Regions from separate parts of the Homo sapiens genome. Here all the other regions are reported to be linked to region 3. Evidence: microRNA targets listed by miRTarBase, many of them from high-throughput screens and not tested one by one. Region 3 holds a microRNA gene; each other region holds the end of a gene's coding sequence.

Region 1 (3,232 bases), not on the chromosome of region 3:
TGTGGACATCCCAAATACCTGAACCCTAGAGAAATCCCCAGCACTTCTCTTACCCATCTACTCAGTTGCTCTAAACCTAACCACTTTTCTCTGCAGAACTGAGTCATATCCTCTTCCTCTTTATCTAATCGTGGACCTAATATGACTTCCTTCTGTTGCTCTTATTATTCCCACAAAATTTGGGAAGTCTCCTGGCTGCCAATAATACAATACATCCTTTTCTTGATATGAGATTTATCTTAAAGTTCTTTTCTAGAAAGAGAAGTCATTCTCAACAATCCCTTTTGTGTTATACACTAAGGATGTATTTGTGAGGGGCTATCTACTCTGTTGATTCAGGTATCTATCCCATCATCCCACACCACCTTAGAGGAAAGGGCGTTATTTCCAGACACAAATTTCCCCTAAGGCACAGGATATACACCATCCAAACCCTGACATCTGGCCCTCCTCACATCCCTGGTCCCTAGTTCCCAGTCCTCAATGACCCATTAATCACTCCTAGGAAGCTACATGAAAATAAGAAAAGTCCAGGGGCCTCCTCCTCTTTACTTGGGCCTCTCCCGGCGCAAGGTCTCTGCTGACTTTGGAATCACATTCAGAGGTTTTTGCTCCTGAAGTGAACTGCTTGTAGCAGGGCCTTCAGGTTGAGGGGCCTCAGGAAGCTTCTCAGCACAGTGTGGTCCCATAGTACAGCCCTAGTATAGATAAGGAGATAGGATTAGGGATAGAATCCTTCTATTGGGGGCAGAATCCAAGTACATAAATAATTTACCTTGATGTTTAAGAACTCAGAGAAATCTACAGTTCGCTTTCGGCAGCAGGACCAACCCTGATAACAAGAGACCCAGATCAGCTTAGCTTCCTGGGTATTATCTCTTCTGGGAAATGCTCTTGCTAACCCCCCTCACCTACTCCTCACCTTAAGTGCATCATGGAAGATTGGGACCCCAGGGTGATGGCAACAGGAATCTGTGGACATCAGTAGAAGTTATCAAGGAAGGGAAGATAACTATACCAAGTATCATTTTTCACCTCTTCCCCGGGTTTCTATTTATGGTTTCTTCCCATATAATGTGAAGAAAAAAAAAAAAGCCAGCAAAGGCTGTAAGATCACTCAGACCAATTAAACTAGGGCAGGTAGTTTCTTTCCCCGCTCCTCAAACACACTGCCCCCCAGCTGACCAGTCCCCAACACCCACACAGAGCCCCTGGCCAGGTCAGGATTCTTTACTCACCAGGAAGGTTGGTATTAGGGTCAAAGTGCTGCCCACAGCCTTTGTTACGACAGAGTAGAGACATGGAAGCGTTGGTTGAATGATTACTGAAAGGGTATTTCAAGGAGTCTGGCTGCCGAATGGGGAACACCTCTTAGTCTGGAGGCTTTTAGCTGCCTGGAAGGGCCAGCTGTTTCTATCTTTAGTTCAGGAGGCGTACACCTCCTAACATGGGCAAGGGAACTTCAATTCGTCTTTCCAGCCAATAGGAAAGAGCTCGGGGGCATTTTAGCTCTGAGGCTCAGGAAAAAAGGATCAGGCAGAGTAGGGCTTTGAACTTGGGTGAGGTCAGCTCACCACTACTGAGACAGTTTTAGATTCACCACAGCAATTCCAAGCCTTGGACACAGCAGCAGCTGCTAAGAAACAAATACCAATTTTGAGACCCCCCCCGCGCCCCCAGCTCGATGAGGATTAAGCCCATTTTCTTCCTCTTTCAGAGGGGCAGCTTTCCTCCATCATTACTTCCATGTAGTATCAATAGCGCTAATCCTTGCCAACCCCTCCAGCCATTTGATGCACCTCATCCCCACCTCCTCCCCATGTTTGTCTAGATCAATACTGTAATCCAAAGGTCATAAAGGATTACCTTTATAGAGTCTACTGCTCATCTCCTAAGATAACTCCCCTCCCTCCTTTCCCCTTCAAAAACACCACAGAAAATTAAAAGGCTTAAAATGTATTTTAATAGGTTGATGCTGCATTACTGCTCCATTTTTCAGAAAAACTCCAAATATATGAGACAAATCAAACACAGTACACCAATGAAAAAAAAAATGCACAGCATGACTACCTAAGATAGGCGAGTCTAAGAGCTACTGTCAGACCTTCAGTATACAGTAACCCTGTTCCCAAGATTGTACTAGGCCTATCAAGAAAAGCTGTGAACAGCAACATCATAGACACAAAAGGGTCATTCCTGGGTGTCCTCACCCAAGAAAAAGATGGAGGCAAGTTAACACAAGATTTTTTTTTAAAGATACACTAAAATGAAAATCTCTAAGAGAAAATGTCTTCTTTAGGACATGAAGGGGTAATATATGGGGTATAACAGAACCGTATGTACGCTGCCTGTGACCTTTGTGGACGTTTGCCTGAATTCTCACCTGGGAGTGAATGGAGCAATGGGGCTAAGGTCATTGGGGGATGTTTGGTTTTTGTGGTGTATGTGGCAGTTTCTCTGGGGCTGGGGGAGTGTAAGGATAAGAAGCAAGTGAGGTTGGGCACGGTGGCTCACCCCTGTAATCCCAGCATTTTGGGAGGCCGAGGTGGGTAGATCACGAGGTCAGGAGTTCAAGATCAACCTGGACAAGCTTGAACCCGGGAGGCAGAGATTGCAGTGAGCCGAGATCATGCCACTACACTCCAGCCTGGGCGACAGAGTAAGACTCCGTCTCGGGGGCGGGGCAAGCAAATGAAACAAGATGGACAAAAAAAAAAAAAACCGGAATGATCAAGATTAATGGGCTCTAACTGGATCCACTTTGCCATGGTTTCCCCAGGCCCTCAACAGTCACATTAGAGACTTCAGGAATGCACCACACAGAACTGATTAAACAATATACCACACAGAATTGACTTGTTTAATACCACCCCTCCCTTGCCCTCTGCCTCCAGCATACTCCCTAGAGTAGTACAGGCAGGGTAGATCTAACTATTGGAAGGAATCCCTAACACTTTTCCAGGGTAGAATTCTGGCTAGTCCAAAAAGGGTCCTTCTTTTAAGGGTTTTGAGAAACTAGACACTGCAACTTATTAGTATCGGCGACGTTTGTTTGGGGCAAATTCAGCTCCAGGAGCTGCACGGTTGAATGCAGGAGGAGTTCCACCAATTGCCCCAATTCCTTCCATTGTAGCAGCCTGACCAAAGCGTTCAGTTGTTGGTGGGGTCTTAAAGAGAAAAAGAGAGCAACACTGTAACAGAGCCATTGTTGGAAGCTTCCCACCCATCTGTA
Region 2 (3,267 bases), not on the chromosome of region 3:
GCGAGGTGATGGATTGGATATCTAGTAGGCAAAAAGAAGTTGAGGTGACTGAGCCTTGAGAGGGGAGGACAAGAGGAAAACCTTCATTGGTTTGGCCAGTAAGGTACTTCTGAGAACAAAATGTCTAATAGGATGCACAATGTGAACTCTTCTCCTTTGCTTACACACTATCTTCAGTGAAGTCCATATTGCTCAGGGGTGTTTGTGTGCATAGATTGTTTAGGAGAAGCTTGAAGGGGTGCCAAATTCTCTGTCAGGGCTGACAAGAGGTAAATGTGGAAATAAAATATGCAAACACGGGAATCAGGCATGGAAGGGATAGGTGAGATCCAGGTTTCATGTGAGAAAGATACGGTCTGGGCACAATTCAATTTGTGCTCCAGCAATGAAAAAGGAATAAGACGGCGCACTTCACTTGTAATCAACCTAAGGGAAGAAGTAAATCAAACAACTTCCCTTACTAAGAGTGTGACTGCTAGAGGCAGAGGTATCTGGAAGGATGTGGAAACTCTGCAATCATCTATTTGTACAACCCTTTTCTCAAGCCAAGGATATAAACCTGGGAAGACACCTATATTGGAGTACAGAATAAACCCATTTGGTGAATTTTTTTTGGCTGTGATCAGTTCTGTTACCAAGGACATGATTTAAATTTGTTATATTCAAATCTACATAGAAATCAGTAATAGAAACTGTGCAAAGGGTTTCAGATAAGGCAGTAATGAATCTGCCTACCTGCGGCATAGCACAGTGGTTAAGAGCATCAACCAGGTTTGGAGTCTTGGCTGTCGCTCTTACTAGCTGTGGAATCATGGGTCAATTACTTAACACTGCCCCTTCTTATCTTTTAAATTGGGGTAAGAATACCCACATCATTGATGGTTGCACCACTATGTAAATTAAAAATCATTCAACTGAACACTTAAAACAGGTGAATTTTATAGTACGTAAATTATACCTTCATAAAGCTTTAAAAAAATGAGTACCCACATCATAGAAATGATGTGAAAATTAAAATGTAAACTGGCACTCTGCCTGTCAGGTAGTAAACACTCAATAAATATTAGTGACTAATATTAGTGTAACAAAGATGAGGTTAAAGAATAATAAAGATATATAAAGTTAAATTTTTAAAGAATTAAGGAATTATCGGGCTGGTTGAAACTTTTGAGATCACTTAGTTCAACTCTTTCATTTTACAGAGGAGAAAATTGGAGACCAGCAGGTGAAGTGCCTTGTTCAAGGTCTAGCGCTAAGACCAGCCCCCAGGCCTGTTGGGCCCCCATTAGTGCAATTCCCACTGTCACCCACGGCCTCAGAAACATGGACACATGGAAAATGTAGGCTGTTTCCTTGGAGAAGAAATAAATACAGAACACAAAAAACATGCAGACATAGCGAAGAAAGAATTTCAAGGCCGGGCATGGTAGCTCACACCTGTAATCTCAATACTTTGGGAAGTTGAGGCAAAAAGATTGCTGGAGCCCAGGCATTCAAGACCAGCCTGGGCAACATAGCAAGACTTTATCTCTATTTTTTTAAAGTTATTCAAGAAAAAAGAATTTCAAGGCCAAGGGGCAAAACCAAGAAGAGGCTACGACATCCTGACTTAGCCAGGGCCTCCAGTGCGGTCCAGGTCATGAGAACTTAAGTGCTTTGGCAAGGCCAGACCCTGGTTTGTCATCAGGTGAACTGACTCATCACTGTAGCCAGGTGCCCGGAGGAGGTGAAGCCACAGTCCTGTCTGCTACTTACTGTCACAATATCTGTCAGCAGTGGCAGGAGATGGGGCTAAAAATATATGCAGCAGAATTCTTAGGAGCAGTCAGTCTGAGCACCCCTGAAGTGTGGACAGCTCCTGAAGAGCTGCTTCTGCCCATGCCGAGCAGTGTGACCTCAATTGTTTATCCCCTGGTGTTGCCTAATCGGCCCCTCTGGATTCTAAGGCCTTCACTTATAATCCCGTTGTAAATTGCCTGTCAGTTCCTCCATCATGGCAGCCTCTTCAGATGAATAAGGAAGCCTGACAGATGTGAAATGAGCCTGCTTCTTCATTAATGCTGCCATCTTCTAAAGTAACTTCATAGCAGGGCTGGACGACTTTGAAGCTAATAACAGCTTACTAAATTATTCCAATGCTAAACAGTGGACAGGAGAATGAGGTGTGTCTTCTAAATTATGACTTTCTAATATTTCAGGGGGTAACAGTCAATGAGTCAACTCTCATTCTTAGGAGGTGGTGGAATCCTGTTCCCACAATTTTGCTGAAGAGTAATTTAGGAAAGATGGCTGGTACAGACCCTTAATGTTTGTTATGTGATCCACTGGGGGAGGAGAAGGGGAAGGAAGGACAGAGGGGAAATTAAGGCCTGAAAGAGCTTTTATGATTTAACTTAGCACACTGAAACCTCTCAATGAATAATTCATAAAAGTGCCTCATTAGTGCCTGCAGTCCTAGCTATTTGGAAGGCTGAGGCAGGAGGACTGTTTGAGCCCAGGAGTTCAAGGAAGCAGTGAGTTACGACTGTGCCACTGCATCCCATCCTGGGCAACAGAGCAAGACCCCAATGCTTAAAAAAAAAAAAAAAAAAGTGCCTCATCTTCTTCAACCAACTATTTAAAATCAGTGGGAGGACAGAGGAGGTTCTGTCCATTCATTGGATTTGAATACTTGGGGTGCATATTTGCATATTATGAACAAATGAATAAGTTGGACTTTAGCTTTTCCACTAAAAGCTTTCCTATTTTGCAGATTACTCCATACAGTGAACACTTTGATGTCGGAGGAGGTGAGAGCTCCGACTAAAAGTCTTCTGACATTCTTGGCACTCATAAGGCTTCTCTCCAGTGTGAATTCTCTGATGTATGATAAGTTGGGAATGCTGGCTAAATGTTTTCTCACACTCGCTACATTCATAAGGTTTCTCTCCAATATGAATTTTCTGGTGGAGAAGCAGCTCAGAATTATCCCAAAAGGTTCTTGCACACTCATTACATTGATGGGGTTTCTCTCCAGTATGAATTCTCTGGTGGACAATAAGGTGAGAGGTCCGCCTGAAAGCCTTTCCACACTCAAAGCATTCATAGGGTTTCTCTCCAGTGTGAATTCTCTCATGTCTAAGAAGTTCTGAGTTCCCCCTGAAGGCCTTCCCACATTCCTTACATACATAGGGCTTCTCACCAGTATGAATTCTAATATGTCTAATAATCTCTGAGTTCTGGCCAAAAGTTTTCCCACATTCATTACATTCATAGGGTTTGTCCCCT
Region 3 (3,267 bases):
GCTGAGCTTCAGTTCTTCTCTGGGGCAGAATATTAGCAAGGACAGTGAGCTTAGTTTTGACTGATTCTGGCATCTTCACAAAGCAAAAACCAAAGTATTGACGTAAGAAAACTGGATTGGGAGTTGGGAAAGGTTATGACTTAATGATAAAGGAATTAAAGAGACACATTGGCATTATTTTTTTCTCCTGACACCTGCACAATGCCAAAAGATAAATCAGAACAGAAAACATTAAAATTGGAAAGGAACTTAGAGACCACCTAGTCAAGGGATGACAGATTCCACAGCCAGTACCATCTCTAAGGTATTGGCATTGATAATCGCTTCTCTCTGGAACTTTGTGTTGAGTAGGATTCTGAGGCTCAAGTTAAACTCACCAGGATTGACTCTTCTGATCAGAGAGCAATGCCTAGTCTTAGAGAACAGAAGAGGCAGGGTCCGCATCTGGTATTAGCATTCTTTATTTAGTTCAACAAAGTCACATGGAGACAATATGTTACATCCTGACTTTAAACATTAGTTCAGAGAAGAAAAGTTGCTGAGATCCCTGCTGCAGTTATCCACGACTACATAACAAACCACTACCAAACTTTGCGTCCTAACAACAGTGATTTATTATTTTGCACAGCCTTGTGGATAATGAGCTTAGGGTGCAGGTTGGGGAGACTGGTGGTTCTCACATGATAACTCAGAGCTCCCAAGAAAGCAAATGTGGAAGCATCTAGACCTCTTAAGGCCCTGTCTAGAATTGTCTGGGCAGCATTTTCATCACATTCCACTGGTAAAGGTGTTCTTACCTTGTATGTGCCTGCAGGGATGAGAGAATTTTGGCCATCTTTGCAGATAATCCACCACAGTCCCTCCATGCTGCCTTCATGCAGCAGGTAGGTGAGTACTCCACAGGCTTTGCCACCCAGAACAGGGAAGCCAAACTGTCAATCTCAAGTCCCTAATCTGTGACCTGCTTATAATTCTTACTCCACAGTTATCATGGTGAAGACCAACGAGATGATGAACATGTAGCACATATCTGTATCACGAGAATTCCACGAGAAGAGCTCAAACTTTTATCATTTCATTTATGCCTGTTAGCATGAAAAAAGAGGCTGAGAAGGGAAGATGGTGACAAGGAATTGCTAAGCAGCAGGTCACATGGGTCACCCAGCGTGGACCGGCCTGAACACAGCTTCCATGTCCCCACTCTTGCCAATGTTCTCATGTGGACACAGCTGGCTTTGTTACATCAGAATGAAGGCCTCCCTTATGATGGCTCAGTGTTTCCATAGAAATGTCCAAGGAACATGATTATAGAGTCAGTCCATTCATTAACACAGAGGGTTAGGGGTTGGGAAAATCATCTAATCCAACAGCCTTATTTTGAAAATGAAGTTTCCAAGCCCTAGACGTTCATGGAAGCTCATGAAAGGCTCCTAATCACAGTGCCCTTTCCGCGGTAACATGGGCTCCTTATTTAGTTCCATTCAGAAAACCTGAAGAGAGGCCTCCCTGGCCAACGGTAGTGGGGATTAGAAGCAGTCCGTTTCTGTTAATATTTATATTCTATTTTAATAAAGCCTGGCTTCTTACAATCAAGTGCAACCTAATTTGTCCAGAGCCGACACTCCCGAGTGTACAGAATCCCCATTTGATTTTGCTGTTTGGAACGTTATCCACTCAATGGTTTCTCTAAACAACAGTGAAAGTCCCCATCCACCATGAACCTGCAGAGCATAACTGGATATTTTCTGGCCAGTTGGCTCATTGCCTACAGCAGAAATCTTCAAGCAGAAGCTACTGAAACAAGGACACTAATTTGCTAAGCCAGGAAGTTTTTCAAAGTCCATGATCCAGAAACACCAAAAATAGAAAAACCAACACAAAAATAAACAAATAGAAAAGTGGCCCATGCCTGTAATCCCAGCACTTTGTGAAGCCAAGGTGGGTAGATCACCTGAGGTCAGGAGTTTGAGGCTAGCTTGGTCAACATGGTGAAACCCTGTCTCTACTAAAAATATTTAAAAAATTAGCCAGGCGTGGTGGCGGGTGCCTGTAATCCCAGATACTCAGGAGACTGAGGCAGGAGAATTTCTCAAACCCGGGAGGCAGAGGTTGCAATGAGCCCAGATGGTGCCACTGCACGCCAGCCTGGGCATCAAGAGCGAGACTCCATCTCAAAAAAAAAAAAAAAAAAAAAAAAAGCCAGAGATTTTCTTAGATAAGTATGTGGAAGGATCCCAACATCTAAATGTTTCTACATCATGAGATGAAAGGAAATTAATGATGATCTCTTTTTTTTTCTTTTTTTTTTTTTTTCCAGATGAAGTCTTGCTCTTGTTCCCCAGGCTGGAGTGCAATGCTGCCATCTCGGCTCACCACAACCTCCGCCTCCTGGGTTCAAGCAATTCTCCTACCTCAGCCTCCCGAGTAGCTGGGATTACAGGTGTCCGCCACCACGCCCAGCTAATTTTTGTATTTTTAGTAGAGACAGGGTTTCATCTTGTTGGCCAGGCTGGTCTCGAACTCCTGACCTCAGGTGATCTGCCCGCCTCGGCCTCCCAAAGTGCTAGGATTACAGGTGTGAGCCACCGTGCCCAGCTGATGATCTCTTTATAGTAATTTCTGACATACGTATATCTTCAGGGTTGACATACAGATTATGCTTTTCATTCACACAACTTTCAGGTTAAGTCTGACTGGTGTTACTACCCACACACCATAGAGGAGGAAAGGTAGGCTCAAAAAAACTGACTTGCCCAAAACAAGTTAGATGGTGGGACACAAGATAGAAAGTGGGGAAGTCAAGACTGAAGCACCCACCTCCTGGCTCCATCACAGCCATGTGTGCTGATATCTGGGCAGCTAAACGTAGAGTGCTGGAGCCCACATGGGGTGTATGGCTGGGGAATTTTAGCTTTACTCTCATTTCTAGCATCTATGTTGGAAAAGCATTTTGTGTTTTATGCTTTTATTGTATATTCAGCCAGTCAAGAGTCATAGTCTATTTCATTCAGGCTTATGCCACTCACTAATGTCAGTAGAAGCCTATTCGTTTCTTAGAAATTGTAGTGGAAGATGTAGAAAGTACACTTGTCAAATTTGGGCATGATTCATCTGTGAGAGGAACCTTGTGCATGCAAACTCAGTAACAGCGTTCACAAAAATCTGGACAGGCTTGAAAGACAGGCTGAAAATAACATTGCAGCAGGAGGAAATGTAATGGTATGAACCTGAATTCAGAAGGCAACTGCCTAAAGGTGGACTAAATAG
Region 4 (3,267 bases), not on the chromosome of region 3:
TCTGGTTGGAGACACTATATATAGCTAGACCCCTATTTCTGCTGGTACGTATATGCACCCACACACATGCACACAGCACACAGCACACATGGAGGGGCTGGGAGGGAAGCATCCAACTGTTCACATTGGGATTGTGGGAGTGAGGGGACTGGTGGGTAACACTGAGGTTTTATATCGTTTTAAGTTATTTAAGCTTTTACTAGCCTGTAACAACTGAAAAAGTGTGTTTTACACCCTAAAGGTGCAGCTGAGGACCTGTGCCCATGCCTGGCCCCCAGGGACTATTCTCAGAGCTCACCCGCGGTGTGAGCCTGGGGCAAGTTTCCAGACCCAACACACCAGGCTCTGGCCTCAGGCCTGCCTCCCAGCAGCCTCTGCCCCCACCCTGCCCACCACCAGTCTGAAGGAAGAGGCGCGGAGTCGTGGGGAAAACATCCACTTTAAGCTTTATTACAACACATTGTCTCCAAATACAAAGGGAGGGGCCGGGAGCAGAAGGTGCGGCTGTGGCGGGAGGGGCTCCAAGGGGGGCTGAAGGGCCGGCAGCCCAGTCTACAGAGACTGGAGGCTCAGCGGGGGACCTGCACCCTCTCCTCCGCTGGACTTCCCAGCAAATAACAGGAGGGGCCGGGTCCATTTTGGGGCGATCCCAATGCCAGGCAGTGGCCAGGTGGGAGGGGCCGGAGAGAGGCTTGGAGAGGACTCAGGGCTGGGTCAGGTGAAAGCCACCAGGTGGGGCCCTGGCCCGCCTCCCGCAGCACTGGAGGAGGCAGTGGCCAGGTGGGAGGGGCCGGAGAGAGGCTTGGAGAGGACTCAGGGCTGGGTCAGGTGAAAGCCACCAGGTGGGGCCTCAGCCCGCCTCCTGCAGCACTGGAGGAGGCAGTGGCCAACACAGGACCTTCGCCCCCCTGCTGGCTGCTCACTTTGCGGTAACCAGTGCCTCAAGAGTGGGAGCAGAGACAGACTGAGACAGACAGCCCCCCTCAACGGCCTGCAGAAGGGACAAGGGGAAGGGGGAAGGGAGAAGGGGGCCCAACCAGTGGCCCCAGACCACTGTCTCCCGGACAGCACAGGGGTGGGGGGCGAGAAGCGGGAAGCCAGTGCATCCTCCTCACCCAGGGTCTCCTCAGAAACCCAACGCAACAGACATATGGGAGGCAAATTTACATAATTAATAATAATTAACCAATAATAATAAATACTTAAACCTCTAATCCATAGATTGCAAATACAACGATAGCTTATTTTCTTGGGGGAACAGGAGTGGGTGGGGACAGAGGGAACGGGAACAGGACTTTTGCTGAAAGGAGGGATGACAGGAACACAGAGCTGTGGGTGAAAAGAAGAACAAATAGAAGAAACAGCAGAGAGGGCGGCTGGCTGGGGCGGGATGGGCGCCTCCCTGGCCCTGCTCCAGGACTCAGGACTGGGTCCTGCCCTGGGCTGCCTCTCCGGCCAAGCCCCTGGCCTCTTCCCACAGTGACTGGCCCCACTCCTAGACCCTAGGACATCTGAAGGGCAGGGGTCCCAATGGCCCGAGGGGGTATGGGGCAGGGGCAGCAGGCTGACCCACCTGGGCCCAAAAGCCACTTGTGTTTGGGGGCTGGCATGCCACCTAGAGAGAGAGCACCCTGGGAAAGGGGTGAATGGGAGTTTCTCTCCTGAGCGGCCCCATGGGGGTGGGGGCAAACGAGGGGGCTTTACCTGTCTTGAGGCAGTGCTCCCTAAGTGAAGCAGGCCTATCCCAGCAGCACAGGGGCTTGGCTGGCGCCTGAACTCCCTGTGTGAGCAGCACCTGCTCACAGAGCCCCTCAGCCTGCAGGTGCACACCTGAATTCCAAGTTCTGCCTGGGGCATGGCTGGGAGGGGGGCGGGGCAGACCTGGAACAGAACCCTAAGACCACCCCCTCCTCATACCTGGGGGTCCAGGGCTTCCTGCCCAGTGGAGCCAGCACTGGCTAGCCAGGCGCCTCCTGCCTGACCCCCGGAGGCCAAGCTCCTCTCCTGCAATGGTGCCACCCTGCCCGGCAGGCAGCTCTGGGGGCATGGGCAAGGGAGAAGGGAGGGCCGCAGCCCTCTAGGAATGGCCTTTCTGAGCCACTCTGTGGCTGGACTGGGGCTCTGGCAGGAGTTGGGGGCACTAACACCTCTGTCCTCCCCTGGGCTGCACCTCATCTGACGTTCCAGAACCCCCTGCCCGAAGCCCCTACACACACTGTTCTATTTCTCAGCCCCTCTGAACACCCTGGCACCATGAAGCCCAATGCCTGTCCTCCCCTGCCAGAGAACAGCTCTGGGGCAACGGGCAGCGGGGTGCCCTCCTTGCCACCAAGATTTGGTGCCTGGAGCTGATGGAGGGCTGGCCGCACCTCTCCGGGGCACACCAGCTCCTGCTCCTCCATCCTATGGCTTTGGTGCAGAGCCCTAGGCCGGCGCAGAGAAGGGAGGGAGCAGGGGAGGTGGGTGGGGGGAGAAGGGGGGTTCTGCGGCTCAGTTTGTGGCAAAGAAGTTTTTTTTTCCTTTTTTTCACCTTTTTGTTATGTAAAAAGTGCACGAAAGCTCGGCAGCCTTTGCAAAGGTCAGCAGTGTTTCCTGGGGCGGGGGAACTGGGAGGGGCCCCAGGCCTGGCACCCAGCTTGCGACTGAAGGTGGCCTCGTATTGCTTAGAAACGTATGTTTCAGTTTAAATACCAGACAGTAAAAATAGAGCTCGAGGACCACCCGCACTGTTGCCAAATCATTGCCAGAATGAACAGCTTAAATAAATAAAAAATCGAAATATTTACTTCTCGATAAAAATCCCAGTAAAACCATTTACCTTTCTTTGCATTATATATAATATACATTTATAACGGGCCTGGCTGCGGGCGGCGGGGCCGAGGGCAGCGGAGGGGTCAGGACACCTCGATGACCTCCACGCTGCCCGAGAAGCTCGCCTGCTTGCCCAGGGCGGCCAGCTCCTCGCCGCGCGCGCGCCCCTCCACCATGCCCTCCTCGAACTCCATCTGGCAGCTGCGGCGCTTGAACTGCGTCTCCGGGGCCGGCTCCTCGGGCCAGCCGGTCCGCGCGTCCCGGGGCTCAGCCCTCGCTGCCTCCCGCCGCCGCAGGTCGCTGCCGCCGCCTGGTCCCGGGGCGCCCGCCCGGCCGAAGGGCGCAAACAGCACCCCGCCCGCCCCCTGTGCGCCCTCGGGGCTGAAGCACCAGGGCCCGTCGGGCGACGGCGTGCCTGGGGAGTCGAGCGGCGGTGCCCAGGCCCCGGGGCCGGCC
Region 5 (3,267 bases), not on the chromosome of region 3:
ACATTAATTCATTTGCCTGGATGTGTTTCTATGTCACTCTGAAAAATAGTTGCCTACTGACAAGGCTTTGTGAGAGCTTAGTAGGATAATGTATGCAAAATAATAACCACCCTGCCATTCATTCCATGTGGCTGTGTGCCAGGAACTGTGCTTCCCTTGTGTTACTTACCTAAGCTGGCCATCCCAGAAACCCTGAATTGGGTATGATCATTTTCTTCATCTCATAAGGAAATGGGTGCTCAGAAGTAAAGAGACTTACTCTAGGGCACACAGCAAGTAAGTGTTGGGACTGGGATTCAAACCTTGGTGTTGCTTCATACCAAAGGCCATGAGCTATCTCTAACAGGGAGGGCACTTTGATTGCAAAGAAGCTATCCAAACTGGCAGAATGAGACACAGACCTCAATTAGGGATTCAAAGTGTCTTAAGATGTATTTGCCTCCTAAACTTCTTGCCCTTCTCTATCCCTCTGCAGAAAGACATGGGTTAAAAGAACCAAAGAGAGTCGAAGAGCTATGCAACAAGATCACAAGCAGTTTAAAAGACCACCAGAGTAAGGGACAGGCTCTGGAGCCCACCGAGTCCAAGGTCCTGGGTGCCCTGGTAGAACTGAGGAAGATCTGCACCCTGGGCCTCCAGCGCATCTTCTACCTGAAGCTGGAAGACTTGGTGTCTCCACCTTCCATCATTGACAAGCTCTTCCTGGACACCCTACCTTTCTAATCAGGAGCAGTGGAGCAGTGAGCTGCCTCCTCTCCTAGCACCTGCTTGCTACGCAGCAAAGGGATAGGTTTGGAAACCTATCATTTCCTGTCCTTCCTTAAGAGGAAAAGCAGCTCCTGTAGAAAGCAAAGACTTTCTTTTTTTTCTGGCTCTTTTCCTTACAACCTAAAGCCAGAAAACTTGCAGAGTATTGTGTTGGGGTTGTGTTTTATATTTAGGCATTGGGGGATGGGGTGGGAGGGGGTTATAGTTCATGAGGGTTTTCTAAGAAATTGCTAACAAAGCACTTTTGGACAATGCTATCCCAGCAGGAAAAAAAAGGATAATATAACTGTTTTAAAACTCTTTCTGGGGAATCCAATTATAGTTGCTTTGTATTTAAAAACAAGAACAGCCAAGGGTTGTTCGCCAGGGTAGGATGTGTCTTAAAGATTGGTCCCTTGAAAATATGCTTCCTGTATCAAAGGTACGTATGTGGTGCAAACAAGGCAGAAACTTCCTTTTAATTTCCTTCTTCCTTTATTTTAACAAATGGTGAAAGATGGAGGATTACCTACAAATCAGACATGGCAAAACAATAATGGCTGTTTGCTTCCATAAACAAGTGCAATTTTTTAAAGTGCTGTCTTACTAAGTCTTGTTTATTAACTCTCCTTTATTCTATATGGAAATAAAAAGGAGGCAGTCATGTTAGCAAATGACACGTTAATATCCCTAGCAGAGGCTGTGTTCACCTTCCCTGTCGATCCCTTCTGAGGTATGGCCCATCCAAGACTTTTAGGCCATTCTTGATGGAACCAGATCCCTGCCCTGACTGTCCAGCTATCCTGAAAGTGGATCAGATTATAAACTGGATTACATGTAACTGTTTTGGTTGTGTTCTATCAACCCCACCAGAGTTCCCTAAACTTGCTTCAGTTATAGTAACTGACTGGTATATTCATTCAGAAGCGCCATAAGTCAGTTGAGTATTTGATCCCTAGATAAGAACATGCAAATCAGCAGGAACTGGTCATACAGGGTAAGCACCAGGGACAATAAGGATTTTTATAGATATAATTTAATTTTTGTTATTGGTTAAGGAGACAATTTTGGAGAGCAAGCAAATCTTTTTAAAAAATAGTATGAATGTGAATACTAGAAAAGATTTAAAAAATAGTATGAGTGTGAGTACTAGGAAGGATTAGTGGGCTGCGTTTCAACATTCCGTGTTCGTACTCCCTTTTGTATGTTTCTACTGTTAATGCCATATTACTATGAGATAATTTGTTGCATAGTGTCCTTATTTGTATAAACATTTGTATGCACGTTATATTGTAATAGCTTTGCCTGTATTTATTGCAAGACCACCAGCTCCTGGAAGCTGAGTTACAGAGTAATTAAATGGGGTGTTCACAGTGACTTGGATACACCAATTAGAAATTAAATAAGCAAATATATATATATATATAAATATAGCAGGTTACATATATATATTTATAATGTGTCTTTTTATTAACCATTTGTACAATAAATGTCACTTCCCATGCCGTTATTTTATGGTTCATTTGCAGTGACTTTTAAGGCAGTACTGTTTAGCACTTTGATATTAAAATTTTGCTTATGTTTTGCTAAATTCGAATAATGTTTGAAGATTTTTAGGTCTAAAAGTCTTTATATTATATACTCTGTATCAAGTCAAAATATCTTTGGCCATTTTGCTAAGAAACAAACTTTGAATGTCAAACTGATGTCACAGTAGTTTTTGTTAGCTTTAAATCATTTTTGCTTTAGTCTTTTTAAAGGAAAATAACAAAACTATGCTGTTTATATTGTCATTAAATTATACAATCAAACAAATGCCAAATGAATTGCCTAATTGCTGCAAAGTATAACCCAGATAGGAAATCATATGTTTTTTTCCAAGAGTCATTCTAATATTTGATTATGTTATGTGTGCTTTTATGAAAGATTGTTATTTTTATATATCAAGATGATAGAACCTGGAATGTTAGGATTTTGAAATGTTAGACTTGGAAGGGGCCTGGTCTGTCAACTAGTCCAACCCCTTAAAATTCATAGAGGAGCAAACTGGGGCCCATTGAAGGGTGAAGAGTTACTCAAGGTCAAACAGCTGGTAACAGAATCAAGACTAAGACCTAATTTACCTTTCCATACTCTTTTTTTTTCTCAACTTCATCTATATAAAATCAGGCTTTTAAACATAACCACTAATATTTACCTGAAGATAACCATGAGTAAAGTATACTTTTGCATTAATTTTTTGAGCTTATATGCAAACATAATAAATATTATTAAATATCAGGAAAGCTAACATTTCATACAAGATAGCTTCAGACCAAATTCAAATTGAATTTGAATAAATTAGAAATACTGTGCATACATAACCTTCTTGTGCACCATGAGTATTTGGAAAGTTAATCCTTGTTTTTGTCGTGTCTATAAAGGAAGAACAAAACAAAATAAAAACAGAGCCCTAGAGAAATGCTGTTACTTTTTATTTTTACACCCATCAGATTTAAGGAAAAGACTTTTTAGCCATTA

Evidence for each region. The annotated mature microRNA hsa-miR-7515 reads AGAAGGGAAGAUGGUGAC and lies in region 3 at 1,110-1,127, shown strand. An mRNA with a match to its seed (bases 2 to 7 or 8) in the 3' UTR can be bound and repressed. Matches are read on the target gene's strand: a 7mer-m8 pairs with bases 2 to 8, a 7mer-A1 pairs with bases 2 to 7 and ends in A, and an 8mer does both.
Region 1: miRTarBase lists NONO as a target of hsa-miR-7515. Seed matches in the 3' UTR shown: 7mer-A1 at 2,304-2,310.
Region 2: the mRNA of ZFP3 is a reported target of hsa-miR-7515. Seed matches in the 3' UTR shown: 7mer-m8 at 313-319 and 7mer-A1 at 232-238.
Region 4: miRTarBase lists DUSP8 as a target of hsa-miR-7515. Seed matches in the 3' UTR shown: 7mer-m8 at 2,440-2,446, 7mer-m8 at 2,058-2,064, 7mer-A1 at 1,513-1,519, 7mer-m8 at 1,017-1,023, 7mer-m8 at 997-1,003 and 7mer-A1 at 533-539.
Region 5: the mRNA of NR4A3 is a reported target of hsa-miR-7515. Seed matches in the 3' UTR shown: 7mer-m8 at 1,470-1,476.

The regions. Positions count from the first base shown.
Region 1 is chrX:71,299,877-71,303,108 of GRCh38, reverse strand. NONO (non-POU domain containing octamer binding) reads right to left here. Exons shown (of 12, transcript NM_007363.5): 12 at 1,941-3,167. The coding sequence ends at 3,033. ITGB1BP2 (integrin subunit beta 1 binding protein 2) reads right to left here and starts at 1,359. Exons shown (of 11, transcript NM_012278.4): 1 at 1,239-1,359; 2 at 923-972; 3 at 776-832; 4 at 553-698. The coding sequence starts at 1,302.
Region 2 is chr17:5,092,500-5,095,766 of GRCh38, reverse strand. It overlaps ZFP3 (ZFP3 zinc finger protein), which reads right to left. Exons shown (of 2, transcript NM_153018.3): 2 at 1-3,267. The coding sequence ends at 2,754. Among named protein-coding and RNA genes, the nearest start is that of ZFP3, 16 kb to the right of the region's middle.
Region 3 is chr2:6,649,309-6,652,575 of GRCh38, forward strand. MIR7515 (microRNA 7515) reads left to right here and starts at 1,065; the gene lies at 1,065-1,131. It overlaps LINC03156 (long intergenic non-protein coding RNA 3156), which reads right to left and starts at 1,211. Exons shown (of 2, transcript NR_110497.1): 1 at 798-1,211; 2 at 1-73.
Region 4 is chr11:1,553,624-1,556,890 of GRCh38, forward strand. It overlaps DUSP8 (dual specificity phosphatase 8), which reads right to left. Exons shown (of 7, transcript NM_004420.3): 7 at 428-3,267. The coding sequence ends at 2,895. LOC124902608 reads right to left here and starts at 1,857. Exons shown (of 2, transcript XM_047427956.1): 1 at 1,326-1,857; 2 at 984-1,057. The coding sequence starts at 1,857. The coding sequence ends at 984. RefSeq lists an enhancer at 1,744-2,541.
Region 5 is chr9:99,863,145-99,866,411 of GRCh38, forward strand. It overlaps NR4A3 (nuclear receptor subfamily 4 group A member 3), which reads left to right. Exons shown (of 8, transcript NM_006981.4): 8 at 476-3,267. The coding sequence ends at 723. Among named protein-coding and RNA genes, the nearest start is that of STX17-DT, 42 kb to the right of the region's middle.